Homo sapiens: one gene and its partners. The protein of the gene in region 1 purifies or fractionates together with the protein of each later gene. This does not show direct contact. Each region holds a gene or a part of one and is shown in the gene's direction. Other genes may lie near its edges. The genes, in order: LPAR4, MTX1, TTK and SPG7.

Region 1 (7,200 bases):
TCAAAAGCTACACATTTTGTTAGCAAGGTTGGTCGACTTCTAGTGAGGAGTTTGCATCACAAAAGATAGAATCCTTATATTTGCTCATGAACAAGATGATTTGGACAGAGTTCTGAGTGTACTACCAAATGAAGGTATGATTATAACTATTAGCCTAGAAATTATCAGAATTAATGGAGGAATTATTAGCTGTGTGAGTTTGAGCAATTTACTTAAACTTTCTGTGGCTGATTTTTCTCAAGTATAAAATAGGAATAACAGTGACTACATCATGGAGTTGTGCAAATTACGTAAATAAATATATGTAAAGGACTTAGAATATTACCTGACATGTAATAATGCTGACAAAATGTTTTCTACAGTCATTATTTTTATTGTTACCTTGAAATTTTTCTAACCTATATCAAACATGCAAAGTTCCTGGGCTTTTCCCAAAGTTCTTAGGTTAAAGTGTTCATTTTCTGTAACTACCAACTCCACTTCTAGCAATGGAAACTTGTTTCCTAAGCTGGTTCAGTGAGTGAGCAGGAAAGCTCAGTTGTTTGAGAAAACACTAGGAAGTAAAGGTAATCCAGTGTTAAGGATGAGCTAAAAATCTTGTAGGGAATTTGCTTGAAAATAAATTTTACCCCCTTTCAGAGACTTAGTGTCCTAAATGAGCTGATGGGGAACCTGGCCTTGTGATCCTTTTTTCCACTGAAGCAAAAAAGAAGATTGTATAAAAAAGAAATGGCTGCAGGATCCAGGATTTTGCCTTTCTTTGTTTCCTGGAAGACTTCAATATATCCGCTAATTAGAGGTTGCAGTGAGCAGATATTGCACCACTGCACTCCAGCCTGGGCAACAGAATGAGACCCTGTCTCAGAAAAAAAAAGACATCCACTAATTAATGCAAAGTTAGTAATTAACTGGCTCCCTTTCCCTAGAACATGGTCCAGGTACTGTGTTCACTTAAAGACTATCAGAGTTACCAAAACTGTTAGCTGGAATGATACAGGCATGGTTAAAATCCTTTGGTTACATTTATACTGTTTCTAGGGAACCTGGCATAGTGCTGAACTACTTGCACTATGGGTGATTTCACCCAGTCCTTTGATATTGTTGGCAGAAAGAAAAATTAATTTGGGTTTGAAGTGTGAAGGTCCCAAGCATCTGGTTGTTCTTAATCAAATGTGTAAATTTCCAGTTGGAAGTTAGTCATATTTCAGTTACTTTCTTTTCAAACAGATAAAAAAATGAAATGCATATTCCCCCAGACAGTTCTGAATGCACTTTTTAAGCGACATATTCATTTCCTCCCCCAGTAGCATAGACATCAAAAACTCAACGAGTGTCTTTTTTTTAAAGAACATTTTGAGTTAAGTTTTACAGATATAAACTGGCTGATTGGAGAAAACCCTGGGAAGACTTTTGTTTTCCCCCTTCCACCTTACAAATGTTAGAGCAAGCAAAACTATAAGGTTTGCAGCAATAAGTGAGTTAAAGGAAAAAGGGGATGGTAGTGGATAAGCCTTAGTACTTTCTTGTTAATGGGATTTTTTTTTCTTTATTTGTGTGTATTCTTTGGCCTAAAATAATATCTTGGTGTAAATTTGTGCAAAAATGGGCAAAATGATGCATGTTTTCAGCTGATAAGTAAAAAAAGTCTAGTTGTTGCTTTGGTTGGGTAAAACAGAAGGTCAGGGAGAATAATTTTTTGCAAACACCACTATCCTTTTTGGATTAAGCAGATATTAATCCTATCCTCTTGGAGTTTACAGTTGGGAGAAATCAATGTTAATAAAATTGTCACACAAACAAATTACACAACGGTATGTAAAATTATACCAGTAAAAAATGCAATACATGAAAGGTCCATGATGCTATAGGACATATAGTATGTGGATATGACCTAAATGAGGGGTTAAGGAAGGATTCCCTGAAGGCGTGATTATTGGGATAGGATTTGAAGGGAGAATAAGGATTAAACTGGTGAAAGGAAGATTAGAGAGGGAGGAGAGTGTTCCAGGCAGAGGAAATAGCACTTAGAAATATCCATGGCATGAGTGATCCTATCTCATTCTAGGGGCTGGAAGAGGATCAATGAGGCTGAAACTCAGAAGGGAGGAAGACTGATGCTAAAAGAGCACGTGACCCAGTGACATTGTAAAAGATCTGCTACATTGGTGAGATTAATCAGCAAAGTACTTGTGTCCTTGAGGGAGAAATGAAGACAGAAGAATTGGAAAACTTATGGCTATTAATTTGAAGAGGAGAAAGGTAGTGAGCTGATCATATAGACAGACAGTGATCATGACTATAGGTTAACCCTTCAATCACTATAGTGCATTGAGTTGCTACAGTAAAGTACTCCTCTCAAAAGCTTTTCTCCTTACCCTTATTTTCCCTTTACAAACTGGTCTCCTTCTCACCTACTCTCACTTTACATCTTCTGCATTTGATCACTTTGCTCTGCCCACCTAGAAATATATCCCCTTCCATTCTTGGTTTATTTAATACTGAATCATCCACCAAAATGTGGCACAAATCCCACTTCTTCTAAGAAACCCTCCTGGCCCTATCCATGGGACTTCATCTCCATCCTCTGATCTATTACAGAACTCAATCTCCATATAACTGCCTTGGTATTTTTTTTTTCAAAATTTACCTTTGGTATCCCACTTTTTTCATGTGTCTTTGTGTCCCTACCTAGACTCTGGCATACTGCAGGGTAGAGACTGTATCTTTCGCCTGTGGACTGACAAATGCACCGAGTACTGGTCTAGGATGAGAGTTGGTAAAAGACCATTTATAAAGACACAGACAATGTCAGCAACTGACAGAAATAGACATATTTGAGATAAGCAGAGAGGGGAATAAAAAGAACAGAGATGGGCGGTGGGATGGAGAAGAGGAAGCAACAGAGAAAGTGTTTTTTTAGAGCCAGTTACAAGTAATAAGGCTAGTGTCAGCTTCACACTAACTTGTTTACTGGCCTCCACTGATAGTGAGAAGAGCCACAATAGAGCTGAACAAATAGGGAGAATAAACAAGCTTGAAACATGCCCTACTTGGGAGGCAGCTTAATTACACAAACTGAAGTTCTGAAGCAAATAGAGGATCCTCCAAGACTCCAGGGGCTCTGCTCTGCCAAGAGAAAGAAAGCACCTTATCCCTGGGCAGAGAATTTCATTCCAGAGGAGGGGGAGGGGCTGCTGTTGGTGGCTTTTGCAGTGGGTGGAGATAGAGTAGAGAAGGCTTGCAGGGGTGGGCTGGCAGAGGGGAAGGGCCAACAATGAAGTTACAGATGGATGAGTGGGTTTCTGCCACAAAATCAGATCAAGGAGAGGGAGGTGAAGAGGAAAATATAGGGAGGAAAAAAAAAAAGAATTGTGAGTGACCAAGGCAGTAAACCTGTAGATAATTAGAAAAGAAAATCTTGCCATGGGGGAGGTGGGCGGAGGTATACAGTTGCAGATAACTCTCTATTGTAAATAGATTGCATCTGTGCTATTTATTTTGTATTTTAGCAAATCTCTGAAATTTTCATGGTAATTAGACTTACTGCGAGGCAGTTACTTGAGAAGTGTAGACCCTCCTTTTGCTACAGAACACTCCCTAGTCCTTGGAAGGTGGGTGTCAGAGCTCTGGGACCCTAGTACATCTCTATCTGAGGGCACTTATCTGGCTTAAGTGAGTGTAGTATTAAAATTTACTTTATATTTTTGTGATGGTGGGAGATTGAATTTTGCACAGTGTGATAGGAATATTTTTATGGTACCTTTCATTTTTGCCTTTTCCTTGCCCCCTACTTATTATTATCAATATTGTTGTAATTATTTTAAACAAGTAGGAGCGAACATGGTATGCATAATTGAAACACTCCTCCTTGTTTGAAATGTTGTCTCCTCCTCTGCAGTCCTGCGGCAAAGACAGGCACACAGGCTTTCTCTGTGGATTAATTGGTCAGGAAAGACACTTTTTATATTGTCAAGTGGCACTTAAGCCATTAATTCTTGACTGTGAAACTGCTTTTCCTGGGCAATGCTCTTTAAGGAAAAACTTATTCAGTCCAGTGACTGGTGACTAAGGGAACGATGGAGCACAGGGAATTGGGCGGGATCTAGACTCCTAATAATGCCTCCTTAGCCAATGAAAAGCATTTCCTATTGAGACCCCCAAGAGTTCCCCTGGCCGTCGGCTCCAGCTCGGACTTCAGGCCTTTTTGTGTCCTGTTTGCTAAAGGCATGCGGGCTACAGCATTCAAGAGAGGGAGTCGTTAACAAAGGGAAAGAGATAAATGTAAATAAGCTCACATTTACAGAATGAGCGGTTTGCAGTAAAAAGCTGCGGCAGCCCAGAGTCTGCTACTTTAGGCTGGGCTAACCTTTCCCTGTAAAAAAAAAAAAAAAAAAAAAAAAAAAAAAATGGATAAAAATATGCACTTCCAAAGGGCGAGTTGCCCATTTACATGTTTATTAGCTAATTATCTACAGGCATCAGCACATTCTCTCATCTAGCACACTCTTTCTTGGGGTAAGTTTCTCTTTTAAAAAGATTTGATTTTGGCGTTTGGGGGTGGGGGATAGCATAACAAACTACAGTGGAAACACTGATGCTTTGAGAGTGTAAGGAAAGAAGTTAGACTTCAACTCTGAAGTACTGAACAAGGATCTTCGTGATGAATGGTAAAAAACGAGAATTTCCATTGTTTTGGCAATAATATTGTTTCCGTGGAAGACATACAGGATTTTCAGGCTGCTGTTTCATGTAAACACAGTTGTTCTAAAGAGCTAATTTAAAATCACAGTGTAGAACAATTTAGAAAGTATGTCGACTAGCTTTGTATTTCTTTGGTTTACAGTTTATTGTGCGCTAACGTGGCTTGTATTATGATGAGGTTTCTTCTAGTAAAACTATACATGACATGTCTTTGATGCTTAATTGATTTATGGAGAATGTGACATTTGCTATATTGAATAATTCATGAACTTGCCCATAAAGGAAGAATCATGTTTGAATGAAAAACTCTGTCATAAACTGAATTTGCAATTATATGTGAAATTAATTGCTGTTTGCCATACAAATGCATCAATGTGTCATCTTTAAACTCTCTTCTTGTAAATTTTAAATATTTTCAGTAAAAAGGTCTTATTGAGTTGCTAAATACAGTATTTCAGTTACCTTTTAAAAGGAAATTCAGCAATGTAATTTATCATTATTTCAGTGTGGAAAAGACCAGACAAATTCAAAGGTTAGAATATTTCAGAGCTTGGTGGGGTTATTCACTTTGCTACCTTACAAAATTATACCATCTTTCTTTATCTTGACTAACATAAAGACAATAATAATAACCTGAGATCCAGATTACCCAATGGCTTTGCAACACGTTTATTTTTCAGAACAAAATTCCCAACATCATATCCCATCAACATAGATTATAAAACCTTTTGCCTTGTCACAGATGAAAAGTTGCACTCTTGCCAAGAAGGATGAGTTCACCTGATAAACTTGATGGCATCTACATTCTAAAGTCTCTCCTGCCAATCAGAGATGGGAATGAAAGCCTTATTGGAACAATCAGGCCAGTCTTTCAGAATGTGTGCTCTCTGCAAGTTAAAGGGAGAACCAGGAAGATGCCTCACAGAAACATTCAGGCCAAGCTTAGCTAAAGCTTGATCTATTCAATTGCCTTTTGGGAAAATGCAGTGAGAATTGTTGCCCTTGCTGTGGTTTGTTCAGCGCCTAATTGTGTAGCTACCTTTTGTCTGTGTATATGGTCATCACATATAGTCTGCCCTTGGCCTTCTTGTTGGGGGAAGAACAAAACCTGTAATGTGTTTGCGAATATTAGTACTGAAAATTGGGAGCCCAATAAAAGGTTACCTACCACTGGGAATCCACCTTTACTTTAAGCGGATAAATAATCAGTTATCAGAACAATGTAACGGGTAAATGATCTAATGATTCTACATGGTTATGTCCTGAAATATGCCGATAACCTCATATTCTGAGGGGTGAAGTGACCAGGAAACAGGTGGGAAGGGTTGAGGGTTGAGACCTAAACAATTAGAGGTGATATGCCTGCTGAAATGAGCACAAGGACAGAGGATGAGGAAAATAAGGGAATTTGGAAGACTTTAGGATATTAGTGGCATCTTTCTCTGTGATTCTTAGCTTCCGGTATTAATTAATACTATTTATTTCTAATATTCAAATAAATCTAGCAATCATTTCATTAAGTCTAATAAAAATTAATGACCCTCCTTGCTTGCAGACTTTGAGGAAATAAAAAATGTTTTACAGTGGCCAATGTAAGCAGGTGAAAATAAATGATGGAAAAGAACAGCCAGTAAGGCCACCAGCATGGCACTCATTGAAGGTTGCTTTTCTGTCAGTCAAGACTGAAGATTAAAGGAGAAGAGAAACTGAGACTCAGAAATGGACTGTGACTTGCTCTCACAGAGCTCGTGATGGGGCTGGATGTGTCTATATTTAATTAATATCAGTTATAAAAACTTCTGGGTATTTGAACTTCCTAATTTGCTTGGATTTTGAATAAAAGGTTTTTTGTATAATCGTTATCAACTGTGAAAGGCATAAAATAATGTTAATGCTTCTGTTTTCCTTTACGATAAACCAATAAAATGGAATAAAATATTCATTTCATTCCAGGAAGACAGATTTCTGGAGGAGTGTGAAAATCAACTCTCCTTAATATTAAGGTGATCTCAATGTATCTTAAATTATCTAATCATTGTACTTATTTTGTTTTTTTAGATTATAGAAAAATCATTTCAGGAGAGTTGTAATACTATTTAGAAGTTTGCTTTGTTTTAGGCTACCTCTGTTTAGAAAAGGATGAGATGTAACAATAGTGTACGTTTGGAGCTAGGGGATGATTCTACTTTACAGATGGAAGCACTGTAATGGGTAAATTCTAAATGCGGTTGCTACTCCTAAGAATTCCATCGCAGAGTATTTCTGGTTTTATACAAATATTTTGTGCAGAGTTTGAATTGGAGATGTTACAGACATGCTATATTGGGTAGGCCTAGGACATCCTGGTAAAGGTGCAGTGATTGTCAGTCAGTGTTTGAATTGAAGCCTTGATCATATCACTGTAGTTCAGTGGAGAGAGAAATTGTGTGGGGTGTAGGTAAAAAACAAGACAGTGGAGTCTCCACCTGTTGTTCCAGTCATCTTTCCTCTTCCCTCTTC
Region 2 (2,678 bases), on another chromosome or scaffold:
CTGGATCCAGGGAGTGTGAGGATGGCTTTCTCTGGTTCCTGAGGCATGGACCGAGTCCTAGCCTGCATCTGAGCTCCGTTGTGCTAGCTTTGTGGTGTCTGGGTCGGGGAAGTTACTGTTAGAAAGTTGCCGTCAGCGGGCGTTGTTCCAGCTTTCCATGGAAATTCTGGGAGCTGCTCCTAGTTTGCGGCGGAGCCTTCCTTCCTTCCCTGCATTGGGCGCTGGACCTTCACGGCCAGGAGGCTCCAAGGCCCAGGCTTTTCGCCAACAGCAACAGGCTACTGGCTGGGCCCAGGCAAGGGGGCCTTGGCAGGAAAAGTTCCTTGCTGTACCTCCACTGCACTCAGAGGCCAGTGAGGGGGGTACCAGACAGGACTCCTTCCTCCCTGGTGAAGTGCCCTTGCAGCTCCCTAGTGTCCACGCCATGGATATTTCCTCCACAGAAGTACAATGCTGATTATGATCTGTCAGCTCGGCAAGGGGCAGACACCCTGGCCTTCATGTCTCTCCTGGAGGAGAAGTTGCTCCCGGTGCTGGTGAGTGTGCCCAGACCTCCCAGCATCCATGGCCAGCCGGGGAGGGTTCGGGAACACACAGACCCACACACAGGCTCAGGAAAGCATGGGGGTCAGAAGCCCACCTTGAATCAGACAGGTGCACTGGCTCAGACCTACCTGTTTCTTCCTGCCCACCCAATCCAGGTACATACTTTTTGGATAGACACCAAGAACTACGTGGAAGTGACCCGGAAGTGGTATGCAGAGGCTATGCCCTTTCCCCTCAACTTCTTCCTGCCTGGCCGCATGCAGCGGCAGTACATGGAACGGCTACAGCTGCTGACTGGGGAGCACAGGCCTGAGGACGAGGAAGAGCTGGAGAAGGAGGTAGCTCTGAGACCGGGGGCTATTGTATGAGATGAGCCCCAAGGATGCTGGCCAGGAATGGGAGTGCTTAGGTGGGGAGGTGGCACTGTTCCCACAGCTGCAAGCCTACCTGTGTCGCCCCTACAGCTGTACCGAGAGGCTCGGGAGTGTCTGACCCTGCTCTCTCAGCGCCTGGGCTCTCAAAAGTTCTTCTTTGGAGATGCGTGAGTCTGACTCCAAGAGGGTAATGGGTGGCTTGGAAGAAGATACAGGTTCAGATGGAGCAGCTGGAGCTGGGGCTGGGGCTGGGGCTGGCTCAGGCTCTGGATAGGAGGTCCCTGGGATAGAAACTGGCCCTAGTGACAGTGTGACTGTGTGGGGGCCAGAGCCTTCTCAGAGGTACAAAAGGGTAGGGTGGGAGGGCAGCCAGGCACAGGAGGGGCCTGAAGAGCTGTGGGGCACTGAATGTGCCCTTTATGCAGCCCTGGGATAGAGCCCTATTCAGGGCCAGGCTGGCGCCACCTGGGGATCTCTCCCCATACCAGGTCTAGAACTGTGTGTCCTGTCCTTCCCTGGTGGCCGCCTGCTGCCCAGAGCCCACCTCCCAAGGCTGACTCTTCCTCCAGCTCCATCTTTACCCCTTCTACCCCAGTGGTTCTCCTCCATCCCACCCTTCTCTCTCTGCTCCAGCCCTGCCTCCTTGGACGCCTTCGTCTTCAGCTACTTGGCCCTGCTGCTGCAGGCAAAGCTGCCCAGTGGGAAGCTGCAGGTCCACCTGCGTGGGCTGCACAACCTCTGTGCCTATTGTACCCACATTCTCAGTCTCTACTTCCCCTGGGATGGAGGTAAGGGGCAGATGGGAGGGGCAGCCCTGGGGAGAGTGGGCAGGGATCCAAGAACTAGTTCTCCTAACACACCTTCCTTCCTTGACCCTCAGCTGAGGTACCACCGCAACGCCAGACACCAGCAGGCCCAGAGACTGAGGAGGAGCCATACCGGCGCCGGAACCAGATCCTATCTGTGCTGGCAGGACTGGCAGCCATGGTGGGCTACGCCTTGCTCAGCGGCATTGTCTCCATCCAGCGGGCAACGCCTGCTCGGGCCCCAGGCACCCGGACCCTGGGCATGGCTGAGGAGGATGAAGAGGAATGATTTGTCCTCACGCTCCCAAGACTGGTTTTTCTACTCTCATGCATTCCAGAGGCCCCCGTGCCTCCTCGTTGTTGGTACAGCCGGACACGGGGTGCTGCCACCCAGAATAAAGCCACTCACACTGACTGGGCTCAAACATTTTCTCCTTTAAGAGCTGCCATTTTTCCTGGCTGGTGCCATAGGAATCATCTGGGTGCCTGGGCACACCCGCTGCTGCTTTAAGGCTTCCGCCCTGATGCTGACACTGCTGCTCCACGGGCCCAGTTCTGCATCTCCAGGAAAGACAAACAGTCTCCAGTTTTGGGCCCAGCTTTCCTAGTCTCTTCTTTTCCTTACCCTCAGCCCTGATCTTGTGTTTGTACGGACAGTGAGCTCACCCTAGGCCTGGACCCAGGCCCAGTTTCCAAAGCAAGCAGCACACAGCGCATGTTCACATAAGCATGGGGGCTGGGGGGACACTGGGGCTTACTGATCTTTTTCTAGGGGCCTCCAGCCCCTGGCACCACCTAGAGGGGAAAGTGAGTCACCCAAACCATTGCCCCTGGGCTTACGTCGCTGTAAGCTCACACTGGCCCTGCTGTGCCCTCTTTAGTCACAGACAGCGTGTGAGCTGACTCTGTCCCTTTAATGCCCAGGCTGAGCCCAGTGCCTCCTTGAGTATCT
Region 3 (7,858 bases), on another chromosome or scaffold:
CCAGAAGGGGTCTAAAATTCTAAAATCTACATTGAGATTATAGAGATTAATAGCTTCCAAATTCTACCTTTTCCAAAAAGGTAACACTTGTCCATCCATTTCTGGCTTTCTATCATTGCTTCTACTTATTATGACTTTTCAGAGATTGCCAGCAATGTTTCTGGGATTATATTTGCACGTTTTTTTTCAATATCCTGCTTATTTTCTTCAGGATATTGTGGTATATTAACCAACTACGTGAGGCTCTCTCTATATAGCAGAGACTGAAAATGTATGGAGATATATATATATATATATATATATATTTTTTTTTTTTTTTTTTTTGAGACAGAGTTTCGCCCTTATTGCCCAGGCTGGAGTGCAATGGCGAGATCTTGGCTCACCACAACCTCTGCCTCCCAGTTTCAAGTGATTCTCCTGCCTCAGCCTTCCGTGTAGCTGGGATTACAGGCATGCACCAGCACGCCTGGCTAATTTTGTATTTTTAGTAGAGACGGGGTTTCTCCATGTTGGTCAGGCTGGTCTCGAACTCCTGACCTCAGGTGATCTGCCCCGCCTCAGCCTCCCAAAGTGCTAGGATTACAGGCATGAGCCACTGCACCCAACCTGGATACATTTAAAAAAAAATTATGGCCAGGTGTGATGGTAATCACAGACCATCACAATGCTTCCCTGCACTTTGGGAGGCCGAGGCAGGTGCATTGCTTGAGCTCAGGAGTTTGAGACCAGCCTGGGCAACATGGCAAAACCCTGTCTCTACAAAAAATACAACAATTAGTCGGGTGTTGTGGCATGAACCTGTAGTACTAGTTACTTGGGAGTCTCAGGTGGAAGGATGGCTTGAGCTCAGGAGGTAGAAGTTGCAGTGAACCAAGATCACACCACTGCACTCCAGCCTGGGTGACAAAGCCAGAGCCTATCTCTCTCTCTCACACACACACACACACACACATACATACACACACACTTCATTTGTGTCAGAGAGTTTGGATGGAATTTAAATGTCTTTCTTATATAGCCTGTCCTGTATTTATTTTTAAGATTGTCAGTCTGACTGCTATTCTTCATATTGGAGAAAAAAGAAAAATAGGAACTGAGAATCCTACTTTTCTTCTGCTGTTTGTTAGCATAGTTTATTGCCTGCATGATTAAATAATACCTGATGTCCAAGTAGTGGTCCTAACTCGTCACTGCTGTTTTCCTTTGTAGAACATAATCTAAGCTGTCATTGCTGTTTTTCTTTGTGATCTATGAGGTACGTTGGTACCTCTCCTTGGCATTATTTTCTTTTCTTTTGGGTATGGCTTGGTCCATTCTGTGATAGTTAGCTTTCCTGACAGTATTCATACAGGTCTCAACATTCTTATGGGCTCACGTCACTCCTAAATGCACTAAAATCAGCATACACTAGTAATGTTTTATCCAGAATAAACCACCATAAAGCAGCACACAACTGATTGCATGCTGTAAGAACTGGATTTATTATTGATCAGAAATTTAACTTTTGTATATGCACAAAATAAATTCATGTATAATAATTAGTTTCTAAAATCAAAGTTTGGGCCTTACTGAGCTTGTGTAACAATGACCTCAATAATTGAAAAAAAAATTCCTTGGAGGGGATTTAAATAAATAAGTAAATAAATAATGGAATAAAAAAGGCAGCTGTGCTGACAGAGAAGTCAAAGATCAGCAAAAAAGTTTCATGATGATAATGACAAAGTTAAACATTCGAAACTTTTGTTTATGTGACAAAAATGTGAAACTTACCATCTTACAATAAGTCATAATCTTATGGCTAATTTTATTGCTTTGTGAAAGGCTTGACTCTGAAAATGAACAAGTTTATTCACTGTCAGATGCAGCTGATTTAAAGCCAAATGAGAAACTGTGATGCAAGAAGTATACAAATGTGTTAAATAAAATAGGATTCTTAAATACTCTAATGGTTGTAAATATTAGTATTTAGCTAACATTTATTAAGTGCCTACAAATGTACCAGGCACTGTTCTAAGCACTAAGGATGCTGTAATGAACAAAGTAGACAAAAATTCCTGTATTATGGAGTTTACATTCTAGTGGGGGTAAAGTTTGGAGAGTCAGAAAATAAACAAGATAAATAAATAGGTCAAATAGGTAAAACTGTAGGATTTTACAGATCACCGCTGTCCAGTGGAAACACAATGTAAGCTATATATGTAATTTTCAATTTCCTACTAGCCATATTAAAGTATAAAAAGAAACAGGTGAAATTAAATTTTCATAAACTTTTTATTTTTGAATAATTTTTAATTTACAAAAAAATTCCAAGTGTATTAAATAGTACAGTGAATTGCTGTATACTGTTCATTGTTTTTCTGTTAAGATCTCGCATTACTGTGATGCATTTTTCAAAACCAAGAAACCAACATTAGTGCATTTTCATTAACTAAACCTCAGACTTTATTTGAATTTTACTAATTTTTCAATTAATGTCATCCTCCTGTTTCAGGATCCAGTTTATGATATCACAGTGCATTTAGTTGTCATGTCTTCTTAGTCTCCTCTGTGATGGGGTGGTATTAATTTTAATAATATATTTTATTTAACTCAATATAGCAAAAATATCATTTTAACCTGTAATTGATATTTTTAAAATTATCAATGTTTATTACTTTTTCTTATTCAGTCTTCAAAATCCAGAGTGTATTTTATACTTAACAGTACATCACATTTCATACTCAGACACTTTCACTGGAAATACTTCATCTGCATTTGGTTCTCACAAAATTTACAGTTGAAAAAGTAGGTTCATATACTTACATTGTTCCAAGTATACTTAAAAGTCTTCCAATAAATTCATGACTAATGCAAGTTTAGAAAAAAGAAAGCAAAAAAAATTACTTTAAATAGTTTAAAAATAATCCCATTAGATATCAGTTTTCAAATTTAAATATAAATTTAATTAATCAATTAAGGTTAATTGATTTAAAAATTCAGTTCCCAGTTGCACTAGACATACTCAAGTGCTCAATAGTCACAGACCATCACAAGGACTTTTGATTTTATTCCGAGCTAGAAAGGGAGCACTGAAGGGTTTTGAGCAAAGTAGTGACATAATCTGATTTAAGATGACTTTGCTATGTCAGAGAATAAATTGAGGTGAGGCAAGGGCAGAAGCAGGGAGACCAGCCAGGAGGCTACTGCAGGTAACATCAGTTAAGTGATGCAGATGCCTTGGACTGAAGTGGTGGCAGTGGAGGTGGGGAGAACTGGTAGGAGTCCAGGAATCTCTTGTGCCAGCCCTGACTCAATCTGCTTATGAGTTAGATAAGGGATCAGGGATGACACAAAGGTTTTGGGGCTAAAAAATTTAAGACAATGAATTTGTCTTTTATAGATTTTGTAAAAAAAACAGGTTTGGGTAGGAAGATCAGGGGCTTGGTTTTGGACATTTTGAGTTCAAGATGCGTATGAGACATGTAAGTGAAGATGTTAATAAGTAGGCAGTGGATATCTGAGTATGGAGTTGAGGAGAGCTCAGCTAATGATACACATTTGGGAGCCATCAACATATAGATGGTATTTAAAAATAGAAGACTGAAGGAGACCACCAAACGAGAGTACAGAAAGAAGTGTTAGGGTGAGGTCATCCAGCAACAGTATTTTAAGGAAAATGCAAGCTTTGTGATCAGGCCGCAAACAGATCAACGAGAATTGGAGGAATAATAAACTCTTTCCAGGCAGAAGCATTAGATGCAATGGTGCAAAGGTAAGTGATTAGCCAACCATGGTATAGCAAGTCATTTTGCTCTGCTGAAGCAGAAATACTAGCTAGCTGACACAGAAAGATGCATTAAGTGATTGAGAAGGGCTCTCACGCTAGCTGGGTGGCTATCCAGAGCTGGGAATGTGAGGGTTCTAAGGATAGCTTTGGAGTTAACAAGTGACAGCTGCAGTTAGTTTCCTATACATACACAAAACCAACCCGTCCTACCACAGAATATATGTCATAATGCTGGCACAACAGACACATCCCTTTTAGTTTTGCAGACGAGGAGTAACCGTTGCCCTGGACCACAAAGCCACTTAGCGGCAGAGCCTCGCACCCGCGAAGATTATTACTAGGGAGATGTTTTTACCCCTGAGGACACCTGAGCCCTTAAGTGGGGCAGGCTTCGAGGGAGGGGGGCCGATAAGGCGACTTCAGACAGGGCAATCACGATGGGCGCTTGAGTTCTGCGCAGAATTTTGACAAGGGGGAGGGTCTTGGCTTGAAGACAGAGCGTGGAGTCATTTAAGGATAATGGAAGGGCATAAGCAGAAGCTCAAGGATAAAAAGCACTGAAATTCTTGAGCTGGCGGCAGGGCTGAACGTAGCTCAGTGAAAGATCCTTTCTTGCCACATCCTCTCTAAGCCAGGCTGTGAGAACCGCGGGAAACGAAGGAGAAGGGTGGCGGTGGGGTCAGTAAAGGGCCGGCCCAAGGTGCATCTTTTAGGTCCTGATGCTAGGAGCAGCCGTCCCTGCCCCTATATTCCTCTCACTGGGTAGGTTTGCTCGGGAGTGGCTACCTCCCAGGCAAAAATTCGGCCTGGTTAAACTGGAAAGACCAGGAAAGCCCGCCCACGGGCGTCCGGGGAACGCCTGCAAAGTGCCAGCACCCTACCAACCCAGGCGCCGCACGGGTGGGGTCGCGGCCGCAGGCTCTTCCGGGGCGGGCCTAGCCTGACGCAGGAGGAGGGGCGGCCCCCGTCGCACAAGAACCAATCACGACTGTCGCTTCTACGTGGCTAGCATTGACCAATAGGAGACCGTAGTGATAGCGACGGGGAAATTCAAACGTGTTTGCGGAAAGGAGTTTGGGTTCCATCTTTTCATTTCCCCAGCGCAGCTTTCTGTAGGTAAGTTCTGTCTTACCGGTGCACCGGCGCACTGAGGAACAGCCGCAGCCGGTGTAGGGGCTCATTGTTAGCGCTGGTCGGTGAGGGGTGGGGCGAGGTGGGGGCAGCTCGGAGCCAGGTATGCGACGCGGCTAAACGAGCTGGAGGGGGAGGGGATGTCTCACTGCCTCAGCGGGTCTGGCCGGTGGGGTGATGCAGGAGGTTTTGTTGAGGAAGTAAGAAGTGGGTGTGGCCCACGCTGGAAAGAAGGGGTGGTGGGGTACCTGCGCACAAGATCGTTTTCCAAAGGACAGTCTCTCTTGTTTTGGGGGTTAGAACTGGGAAAGAAGCGGGTGGCCGTGATCTGACAGTTATCTTTCAAACCTGACTTAAGAGGTGGAGTGATACCTTGCTGCAACTTTATGACTTTTTTTCATTGTTAAACCTGAAGACGGGGCAGCATTGTTATCAGTGACACTGAGTTGGTGTTTGAGAGTCACAAAGATACGATTAACAATAAGACTGCAGACACTTTATTGAACAAACACCACCACCATGCAGATAAGCAAGTGCTCAGTACCAGTACAATAGTTTCTTAGTGTTAGATTAAGGTAGCAAATCGTGATTCTGCTAGATATGCACAAGAATAAATCTGCGGATTTCCTAATTATCAGTAAAGCCCCATCATGTTTATATTCTGCTTTGAAAGCACTTGCACTGGAAGATTTACTCAAGTAAAGCAGGCGAATAAAGGAATTGTTATTCCCATTGCCAAACGAATTCTTTATGTCTATGTCACTACCAGAATCCAAGCAATCTTTATGTGTATGTCGCTACCAAAATCCAAGCAAACACTCTATCATATTTTTTTTAAGTGACACTAAATTTGCAGATTTCTACAGTGTGACGTCATTGATGTTATATTGGGGGAAAAAGTATACTTGGCCTATGAAACCTTGGTGAATAAATTACAAAGATGTGTACCTTGTTGTTGTGCACTTACCTCCATTAATACTAGCCTAATAATAGCTGCATTTAGATGTGTTCACAAAACGAATGCTTTAGTCGTCTGGGTTCTAAAAAGCTAGTGCATTTTTTTCTTTGATGCTAGTTAAAGTAGGAGTTATGACTGTTCAGTTTTTTTCTTAGAAATGGAATCCGAGGATTTAAGTGGCAGAGAATTGACAATTGATTCCATAATGAACAAAGTGAGAGACATTAAAAATAAGTTTAAAAATGAAGACCTTACTGATGAACTAAGCTTGAATAAAATTTCTGCTGATACTACAGGTGAGTTTTTCTTTTCTTTTAAGTTAGTAACTGTTTGTTGGGTATCCTCTAAGGTAAAGATATAGTACTAATCACTTTATTTATAATTTACTCATGTGTTTATTGTCTTTCTCCTCCATTAGAATGCAGGCTACATGATGGCAGGGTTTTTGTCTGTTATATCCACAGAACTTTGAATGGTGTCTGGCACATGGTAGGTAGGCACTTAAACATTTATTGAACAATGATTAATGGGTGAAAATGCCCAGAGTTTAATACTCTAGCTCTTCTAAAAGTATTAGCTCAGAAGCCTGATTCTTTACTGTATTTCAAATGGTTGGTCATTTGAATGGTGACCTTTGGATAATTTTCTTACATCTATACTAACCTTTAAATAGATGAGGAATTGAAAATAAATGGAAGAACCTGTGATCTAATCATGGTGGCTGACTGTTCACTTTGAAAAAACCTAGAAAATGATAGTTTTAGTGTTAAGCAAAATCTTAATGGAGTATAATTGTGCTTAATTATGTCACTAACAAAGGTTGTACATCAAGGCAATTGAGTATTTTAAGTACTGAGGAAGATTCAAAGATGCTTAAAACCATAGTTTCTTTCTAGATGAGAATTTATATATTCACTATGCTACATTGTAATGCATGCTGGGCATCATAGGAATACTAGCATGATAAAACACAAATGTTTTATTTGTTGATTAGAGGAAGAATAGGGTACTCAGGCATGAGGAATGCATCTGCAAAGCCACAGATGGCAATGTGTGTTTTTTAGACATTTCACAGACTAATTTCTTAGGAAAGCAATAGGAGGTAAAAATAGAAAATTAAGGTCAGACCAAATTAAATTTAAAACGACAAAGCAAAGTTATGCATGCACTATATTTTAGTAGAAAGTAGAAACAAATTTTATTTATAAAAGTAAAGATGTAGGCTTTGTTGAAAGTGACTGAAGTTAATAGAAGGAATAATAGCTTCTCTGGAAATCTGAATTTAATATTGCTTAGTAATAACCAAAATATCCTGAACAGAAGACTGACATTCAAGTTATCTTTTTAAAAAACTAACACTGAAGAAAGTAAAAAGTACATTTCAGTGTGAACATTTTGTCTGAAGGTTATTCTTGCTGTTTCTGTTGGTTGGGGTTCCACAGAGAGAAACCTGACAGTCACAAGAGGTCCTATAAATTCCAAAGGTCTAGACCACGGTAACTATGAGTTTGTTGGACCAAGAAATTATCAGGGCCTCTAGCAGAAATTTAGGTTACTTGGAGAGAAGAAAATGATTGTCTCATTTGTTTATTTTTTGTAAAGCTGGTTTGGTTTTACAAGTAAGTATGAGGTATACAGAGATAATGTTGAATGGTTAAGGTTGTAAAGAAGGTTATGTTAGGACTGGAGCAGTAGGTTTAATGAATAAATCATTGATGGGAGAATTTTCTAAGTTAATTAGTACAAGTGGCAGTGGGAGAGATTTAGTTTTCTATGGATAGGTAGGATGCTAAAATTATAGTTATCCTGCAACAGCATAAAATTTTCTTAAACTACATACAATTTTTAAAGGCTACTTACAAAAAAACTCACTTATTTCCAAATGTTTTCTTTCCTTCAAAATATATAGCTTTTGGATAAAGTATACCTTCATAAAAGATAAATACACGATAAATAAGTTACTTGTATTTATATGAACTTTTACAATTTTAAAAAGTATTATA
Region 4 (7,049 bases), on another chromosome or scaffold:
TTTCACGCTCCCCTTTATGGAGTTGGAACAGGGAAAAAGTAAAATATTTCTACTCCTAACTAACATTAAACAGCTTTGTGCCAACACATGGGTAGGGAGAGTGCCGTGCCCACTGGCCGTGCATCAGCAACTGGCTCATCTGCTGTCAGTGTTTAACGTCAGCTCACGGGTGCCTGTGGCTGTGAAACAGGAAGCACATGCTTCAGCCTCCTTAAGCCTGAGGTGACATGCAAGTGGCAACCGGGGCCGTTTCACTGGTGAACCCGTTCATGTCTTTGTGAAGAAAGTTACATTTCAGGTCATGGTTGTGAAACTCTTTCCCTATTTTTATTATTTTTTATTATTATTTGAGATAGGGTCTTGCCCTGTTGCCCAGGTGCAATCTCTACTCACTGCAGCTTCAACCTCCTGGGCCCAGGTTCTCCTCCCACTCAGCGTCCTGAGTAGCTGGGAAGTCAGGCATGTGTCACCACGTACAGCTACATTTTTGTGTTGTTGTTGTTGTTGTTGTTTATTATTATTTTTTTGAGACGGAGTCTTGCTCTGTCTCCCAGGCTGGAGTGCAGTGGCGCGATCTCCGCTCACTGCAAGCTCTGCCTCCAGGATTCCCGCCATTCTCCTGCCTCAGCCTCCCAAGTAGCTGGGATTACAGGTGCCCGCCACTATGCCCGGCTAATTTTTTGTATTTTTAGTAGAGACGGGGTTTCACCATGTTAGCCAGGATGGTCTCGATCTCCTGACCTCGTGATCCACCCGACTCGGCCTCCCAAAGTGCTGGGATTACAGGCGTGCGCCACTGCACCTGGCCTCCCCCATTTGTAAACGCTGATTTGTTCAGATTTTGAGACAGCTCTGTGTGAGGAGTGTCGTGCCGGCCCCTCTTGGTGGTGGCTGGGCTGCTGCTGTTGCCACTTGTCTGGAAACCATTTGTGAGTCGGAGTCTTGCTCTGTAAACCAGGCTGGAGTGCAGTGGTGTGATCTCAGCTCACTGCAACCTCCGCCTCCCGGGTTCAAGCAATTCTGCCTCAGCCTCCCAAGTAGCTGGGATTACAAGCGCCTGCCAACACGTCCGGCTAATTTTTGTATTTTTAGTGGAGACAGTGTTTCACCATCTCAGCCAGTCTGGTCTTGAACTCCTGACCTCGTGAACCACCTGCCTCGGTCTCCCAAAGTGCTGGGATTACAGGCATGAGCCACCACGCCTGGCGTGTTTAAGTTCTTTTAAAGCAACTTCATATATTAAAGGGATTCGTGATATTTTCCCAAATTTGTGTTCATAACTATTTTTTATTCCCTCACATTAGCAATTTAAGTAGCAAAGATATTTAACGTAAGTTAAAATAGTTTATTATTTTGTAATTAGGAAATACTGGACTAAGTGATATAGGATATGCTTTATTTCATATTTATAAATCTTATGGATATAAGTAGGTTTTTCAGATGGTTTTTGTTTTGCTTTGGTTATTTAGGAGTACACTGTTGTCCTGTATGCCTCCCCTGTGGTTGCAAAACTTAATTGTTAAATCCTTTCTCTATTTCTCATAGGTGGTACTTTCTATTTTAACACCTCAAGGTTGAAGCAGAAGAATAAGGAGAAGGATAAGTCGAAGGGGAAGGCGCCTGAAGAGGACGAAGGTATATTCATCTGATGTTCTTCAGTCAGTAGCTGCCTCTGGATGTCTTTACATTTCTGTTTTCCTTTTAGCAAGGTGAAACCAGTCTGGAAAATGGGGAGATGGGCCGGGTGCAGTGGCTCACACTTGTAATCGAAACGCTTTGGGAGGCCCAGGTGGAAGGATCACTTGAGGCCTATACCACATAGCGAGACCCTGTCTCACTGCAAATTAAAAGGCTGGGCGTGGTGGCTCACACCTGTAATCCCAGCACTTTGGGAGGCTGAGGCAGGCGGATCACCTGCACCCTGGCCAACATGGTGAAACCCCGTCTTTACTAAAAATAGAAAATTAGCCGGGCGTGATGGCACACGCCTGTAATCCCAGCTACTCGGGAGGCTGAGGCAGGAGAATTGCTTGAACCTGGGAGGTGGAGGTTGCTGTGAGTGGAGATCATGCCATTGCACTCCAGCCTGAGCAACAAGAGCAAAACTCCATCTCAAAAAAAAAAAAATTTAAATTTAAATTTAAAAAGACCCTATCTATACAGAAAGAAAAGAAGAAAATAATTGGCCAGGCGTGGTGGTGTGCACCTGTAGTCATAGCTCAGGAGTTGGAGGAGCTTGAGCCCAGGAGTTGGAGGCTCAGCTTCAGACTCACAGCCCCAGGGGGCAGAAGGGTTGAACTCAGCTTCAGGAATGCTTTGCTTTTGGATCCTTGAGGCCTCTCGCTGGAAATCAGCGTTGTTAAGATGGACGCCCTGCTCAGCAGAGCTCATCTTTCTAGAAAGGCACCTGGCCTTGGAAGGCGAGTGAGGAACTGTCATAAGGACTTTTTCTTCCCATGTTGCTTTTCAGGAAAGCTTTCAGGATGTGGAAATGATGGTTCAGCTATTGGATGAGGGGATTATTATTGTGAATTCGAGTTTAGCAGGAGTTTGTTTCAGGAGTGACGTCCTTCTTGATTGATTTTGTGTGAGACGCTGCATTTGCCAAGGCCAGGGACAGCTTTACTCTGTGAGAGAGGAGCTCTGACTCTCCCTACTGAGCTCTCGAGGGGAGGTCATAACTGCGGGAAGGGACACCAGTGTTTCGCAGGTGGATTCAGTTTAGGCGTTTCTGGCTTTAGGCTCATCTTCAGCTTACTGTTGGTTTTACGGTAAGTGTCAATGCTTACAGCCACTCAGAACTATCTTCTAAAAGACTTCTGAATCTTCATACAAAATTGTTCTGAATTGATTTCAGGGCTCTTTCCCTGTATACTTCAACATTTCAATAAAGTGTGTCCTTTGACTTTTTTTTTTTTTTTTTTTTTTTTTTTTTTTTGCCAGAATCTCACTCTGTTGCCCCGGCTGGAGTGCAGTGGTGCGATCTCAGCTCAATGCAACCTCCCCCTCCCGGGTTCAAGCAATTCTCCTGCCTCAGCCTCCGAAGTAGCTGGGATTACAGGTGCTCACCACCACACCCTGCTAATTTTTTGTTTTTTGTTCGTTTGTTTGTTTTTGAGACGGAGTCTCGCTCTGTCGCCCAGGCTGGAGTGCAGTGGCACAATCTCGGCTCACTGCAAGCTCCACTTCCTGGGTTCATGCCATTCTCCTGCCTCAGCCTCCCTAGTAGCTGGGACTACAGGCACCCGCCACCGCACCCGGCTAATTTTTTTGTTTTATTAGAGACTGGGTTTCACCATGTTAGCCAGGATGGTCTCGATCTCCTGACCTTGTGATCTGCTCACCTTGGCCTCCCAAAGTTCTAGGATTACAGGCGTGAGCCACCGCGTCAGGCCCTCTTTTTGTATAGTAGAGATGAGGTTTTGTCTTGTTGGCCAGGCTGGTCTCAAACTCCTGACCTCAGGTGATTCACCCACCTTGGCCTCCCAAAGTGCTGAGATTACAGGTGTGAACCACCGTGCCTGGCCTTGACCTTTTTTTTTTTTTTTTTTTGAGACGGAGTCTCGCTCTGTCGCCTGGGCTGGAGTGCAGTGGTGTGATCTCAGCTCACTGCAAGCTCCGTCTCCCAGGTTCACGCCATTCTCCTGCCTTAGCCTCCCGAGTAGCTGGGACTACAGGTGCCCGCCACCATACCCGGCTCATTTTTTGTATTTTTAGTAGAGACTCGGTTTCACCGTGTTAGCCAGGATGGTCTCAATCTCCTGACCTCGTGATCTGCGTGCCTCAGCCTCCCAAAGTGCTGGGATTACAGGAGTGGGCCACCGCACCCAGCCCTGGACCTTTTTTTTTTTTAACTTTTATTTTGTATTTATTTATTTATTTTTGAAACGGAGTCTCGCTCTGTTGCCCAGACTGGAGTCCAGTGGTGCGATGTCGGCTCAGTGCAACCCCTGCCTCCTGAGTTCAAGCGATTCTCCTGCCTCAGCCTCCTGAGTAGCTGGGATTACAGGCATGCACCACCATGCCCAGCTAATTTTTGTATTTTCAGTAGATACAGGGTTTTGCCATGTTGGCCAGACTGGTCTTGAACTCCTGACCTCGTGATCTCCCCACTTCGGCCTCCCAAAGTGCTGGGATTACAGGTGTGAGCCACCACGCCCGGCTGACCTTTTTATAAAAAAAAATTTGCTGGGTAGGTGCGGTGGCTCACACCTGTAATCTGAGCACTTTGGGAGGCCAAGGTGGGATGATCACTTGAGCCCAGGAGTTTAAGACCCTCATTTCTATTATTATTATTACTATTATTATTATTATTTTTTTTTTTGAGATGGGGTCTCGCTCTGTCGCCAGGCTAGAGTGCAATGGCACGATCTCGGCTCACTGCAACCTCTGCTTCCTGGGTTCAGGCGATTCTCCTGCCTCAGCCTCTCGAGTAGCTGGGACTACAGGCGTGCGCCACCACGCCCAGCTAATTTTTTGTATTTTTAGCAGAGACAGGGTTTCACCATGTTGGCAAGGATGGTCTCAAACTCCCGATGTCAGGCGATCTGCCCATCTTGGCCTTCCAAAGTGCTGGGATTACAGGTGTGAGCCACCGTGCCCAGCCTGGAGTTTCACTCTTGTTTCCCAGGCTAGAGTGCAATGGCGTAATTTCAGATCACTGGAACCTCTGCCTCCTGGGTTCCAGTGATTCTCCTGCCTCAACCTCACGAATAGCTGGGATCACAGGCATGCAACACCAAGCCCAGCTAATTTTTGTAGTTTTGGTAGAGACCTGGTTTGGCCACGTTGGTCAGGCTAGTCTCAAACTTCTCACCTCAGGTGATCCACTCGCCTTGGTCTCCGAAAGTGCTGGGATTACAGGTGTGAGCCACCACGCCCGGCCGTTCGTTTTTTTAATAAAAGAAGAAAGTTAGATCACTTGGGGCCAGGAGTTCGAGACCAGCCTGGCTAACATGGTGAAACCCCTTGTCTACTAAAAATACCAAAAAAAAAAAAAATTAGCCAGGTGTGGTGTACGTGCTTGTAATCCCAGCTACTCCGGAGTCTGAGGCGTGAGCATCGTTTGAACCTGGTAGGCAGAGGTTGCAGGGAGCTGAGATTGTGCCATTGCACTTCAGCCTGGATAATAGAGTGAGACCTTTCTGTCTCAAACATAAAAAATTAAGAAAGAAAAGGCCGGGCGTGGTGGCTCATGCCTGTCATCCCAGCACTTTGGGAGGCCAAGGCGAGCAGATCACAAGGTCAGGAGATCGAGACCATTTTAGCTAACACGGTGAAACCCTGTCTCTACTAAAAATACAAAAAAAAAAAAAAATTAGGCGTGGTGGTGGGCACCTGTAACCCCAGCTAGTCGGGAGGCTGAGGCAGGAGAATGGCGTGAACCCAAGAGGCGAAGCTTGCAGTGAGCCGAGATCGCGCCACTGCACTCCAGCCTGGGCGACACAGCAAGACTCTGTCTCAAAAAAAAAAATTAAGAAAGAAAAAAGCGACGGCGAGACTCTTGTCTCAAAAAAAAAGAAAAAAGAAAAAAGTCGTAAGAGAAAATATATTTCCTATTTATGCAGTGGAAGCGGATCACCATAAAGAGCTTCATCCTCATGGCCTTCACCTTGAGTGGGCTGAGGAGGAGGACGAGGGGCTGGTCTTGTTGTCTTGGGTAGCAGGGGTGGAAGAAAATCCACGTGTCCGTGATCATACATAGCTCACTCCTGTGTTGCTGAAGGGTCACCTGTCATAGAAGAGGGAAGAATTGTGTGGCCTGTGCGGATTCTGCATTCAGCCTTGTGTGTTGTGTTACGGTTAACCAGGGACGTGTGCCCCACTAATAACTCTGATTCCTGGAAGGAATGGCATGGCAGCCTCCGTTGTCATGGTTCCTGGAGGGAATGGCATGGCAGCCTCCGTTGTCATGGTTCCTGGAAGGAATGGCATGGCAGCCTCCGTTGTCATGGTTCCTGGAAGGAATGGCATGGCAGCCTCCGTTGCCATGGCAAGGCAAAGCCATGGCAGCTTCCTGGTTATCACTCCTGGCATGTGGTAGGTGCTTGTCCAGTGAAATCCTAGTCGTTGCTGCATTGGCAGGTGCCCTGGCGTGAGGAAGGGCAGGCAGTCACCATGCCCTTTGCTCTCCTGGGCCCTGCATCTGCTTATGGATGAGGCTGCGTGTAGCTGACATGCGTGTCTCTCCTGCATCTGAGTAATTGTCGTCGTCTTTTTTTTTTTTTTTTTTTTGAGATGGAGCTTCGCTCTTGTTGCCGAAGTTGGAGTGCAATGCCACGATCTCGGCTCATTGCAAACTCCACCTCGTGGGTTCAAGCAGTTCTCCTGCCTCAGCCTCCCGAGTAACTGGGACTAAAGGTGCCCGCAACCATGCCCGGCTAATTTTTTGTGTTTTTAGTAGAGACGGAGTTTCACCATGTGAGCTAGGATGATCTCGATCTCCTGACGTTGTGGTCTGCCCACCTCGGCCTCCCAAAGTGCTGGGATTATAGGCGTGAGCCACCACGCCCGGCCAAGTGATTGTTTTATGTTTATTCTGTTTTGGGTTGAACTATAGTTTGCTTGGAGAAAATAATGTCTGTTAAATTTGCGTTAGAGGATAATTGTTTACTGAGCCAAATAATCTTTCTTGTGAGAACCTATTCTGGGTTTCCCCTGGGCCCTCTGCTGTGGTTTCGGCGGGAGTTGGTTTGTGTGGATTTTCAGGACTGCTGACTTGATCAGACAGGCACAACACAGTCCCGGCCCTCAGGCAGGCCTTCTCCCTGGTCTGATGCTGAACTGCATGGCGTCTGTTCAGATGAAGATTCTTTTGCCACCTCCTTAAATGAAAGAACGATACTGAATGTGGCTTAGAAACAGCTTTGCCAGCCGTGCAGAATGATTGTAAGTAGTGGTTGCCCGAAAAGTATTTGCTTGGAATACCACTCACTGATAACACTGGTGAACCTGGAAGGAATTATACGGAGTGAAAAAAGGCACCACTCACTGATAACACGAATGAACCTGGAAGGAATTATACGGAGTGAAAAAAGGCTCCGCTCACT

What was found.
Region 2: the proteins of LPAR4 (region 1) and MTX1 purify together in Homo sapiens (affinity purification with mass spectrometry; 2 studies listed by BioGRID and IntAct, with this or other methods). This does not show direct contact.
Region 3: the proteins of LPAR4 (region 1) and TTK purify together in Homo sapiens (affinity purification with mass spectrometry; 2 studies listed by BioGRID and IntAct, with this or other methods). This does not show direct contact.
Region 4: the proteins of LPAR4 (region 1) and SPG7 purify together in Homo sapiens (affinity purification with mass spectrometry; 2 studies listed by BioGRID and IntAct, with this or other methods). This does not show direct contact.

Annotation. Positions count from the first base shown.
Region 1 is NC_000023.11:78,743,520-78,750,719, forward strand, and holds the start of LPAR4 (lysophosphatidic acid receptor 4), read left to right. Parts: upstream 1-4,200; 5' UTR 4,201-4,515; exon of another isoform or gene 4,516-4,667; intron 4,668-5,381; exon of another isoform or gene 5,382-6,654; 5' UTR 6,655-6,704; exon of another isoform or gene 6,705-7,200. UniProt on the Homo sapiens protein: Receptor for lysophosphatidic acid (LPA), a mediator of diverse cellular activities. Transduces a signal by increasing the intracellular calcium ions and by stimulating adenylyl cyclase activity.
Region 2 is NC_000001.11:155,211,684-155,214,361, forward strand, and holds the end of MTX1 (metaxin-1), read left to right. Parts: intron 1-443; coding exon 444-536; intron 537-701; coding exon 702-884; intron 885-1,010; coding exon 1,011-1,087; intron 1,088-1,553; coding exon 1,554-1,708; intron 1,709-1,800; coding exon 1,801-2,015; 3' UTR 2,016-2,140; downstream 2,141-2,678. UniProt on the Homo sapiens protein: Involved in transport of proteins into the mitochondrion. Essential for embryonic development.
Region 3 is NC_000006.12:79,999,832-80,007,689, forward strand, and holds the start of TTK (dual specificity protein kinase TTK), read left to right. Parts: upstream 1-4,817; 5' UTR 4,818-4,882; intron 4,883-5,998; exon of another isoform or gene 5,999-6,010; 5' UTR 6,011-6,012; coding exon 6,013-6,151; intron 6,152-6,273; exon of another isoform or gene 6,274-6,344; intron 6,345-7,858.
Region 4 is NC_000016.10:89,511,403-89,518,451, forward strand, and holds part of SPG7 (mitochondrial inner membrane m-AAA protease component paraplegin isoform 1 precursor), read left to right. Parts: intron 1-1,545; coding exon 1,546-1,635; intron 1,636-7,049. UniProt on the Homo sapiens protein: Catalytic component of the m-AAA protease, a protease that plays a key role in proteostasis of inner mitochondrial membrane proteins, and which is essential for axonal and neuron development.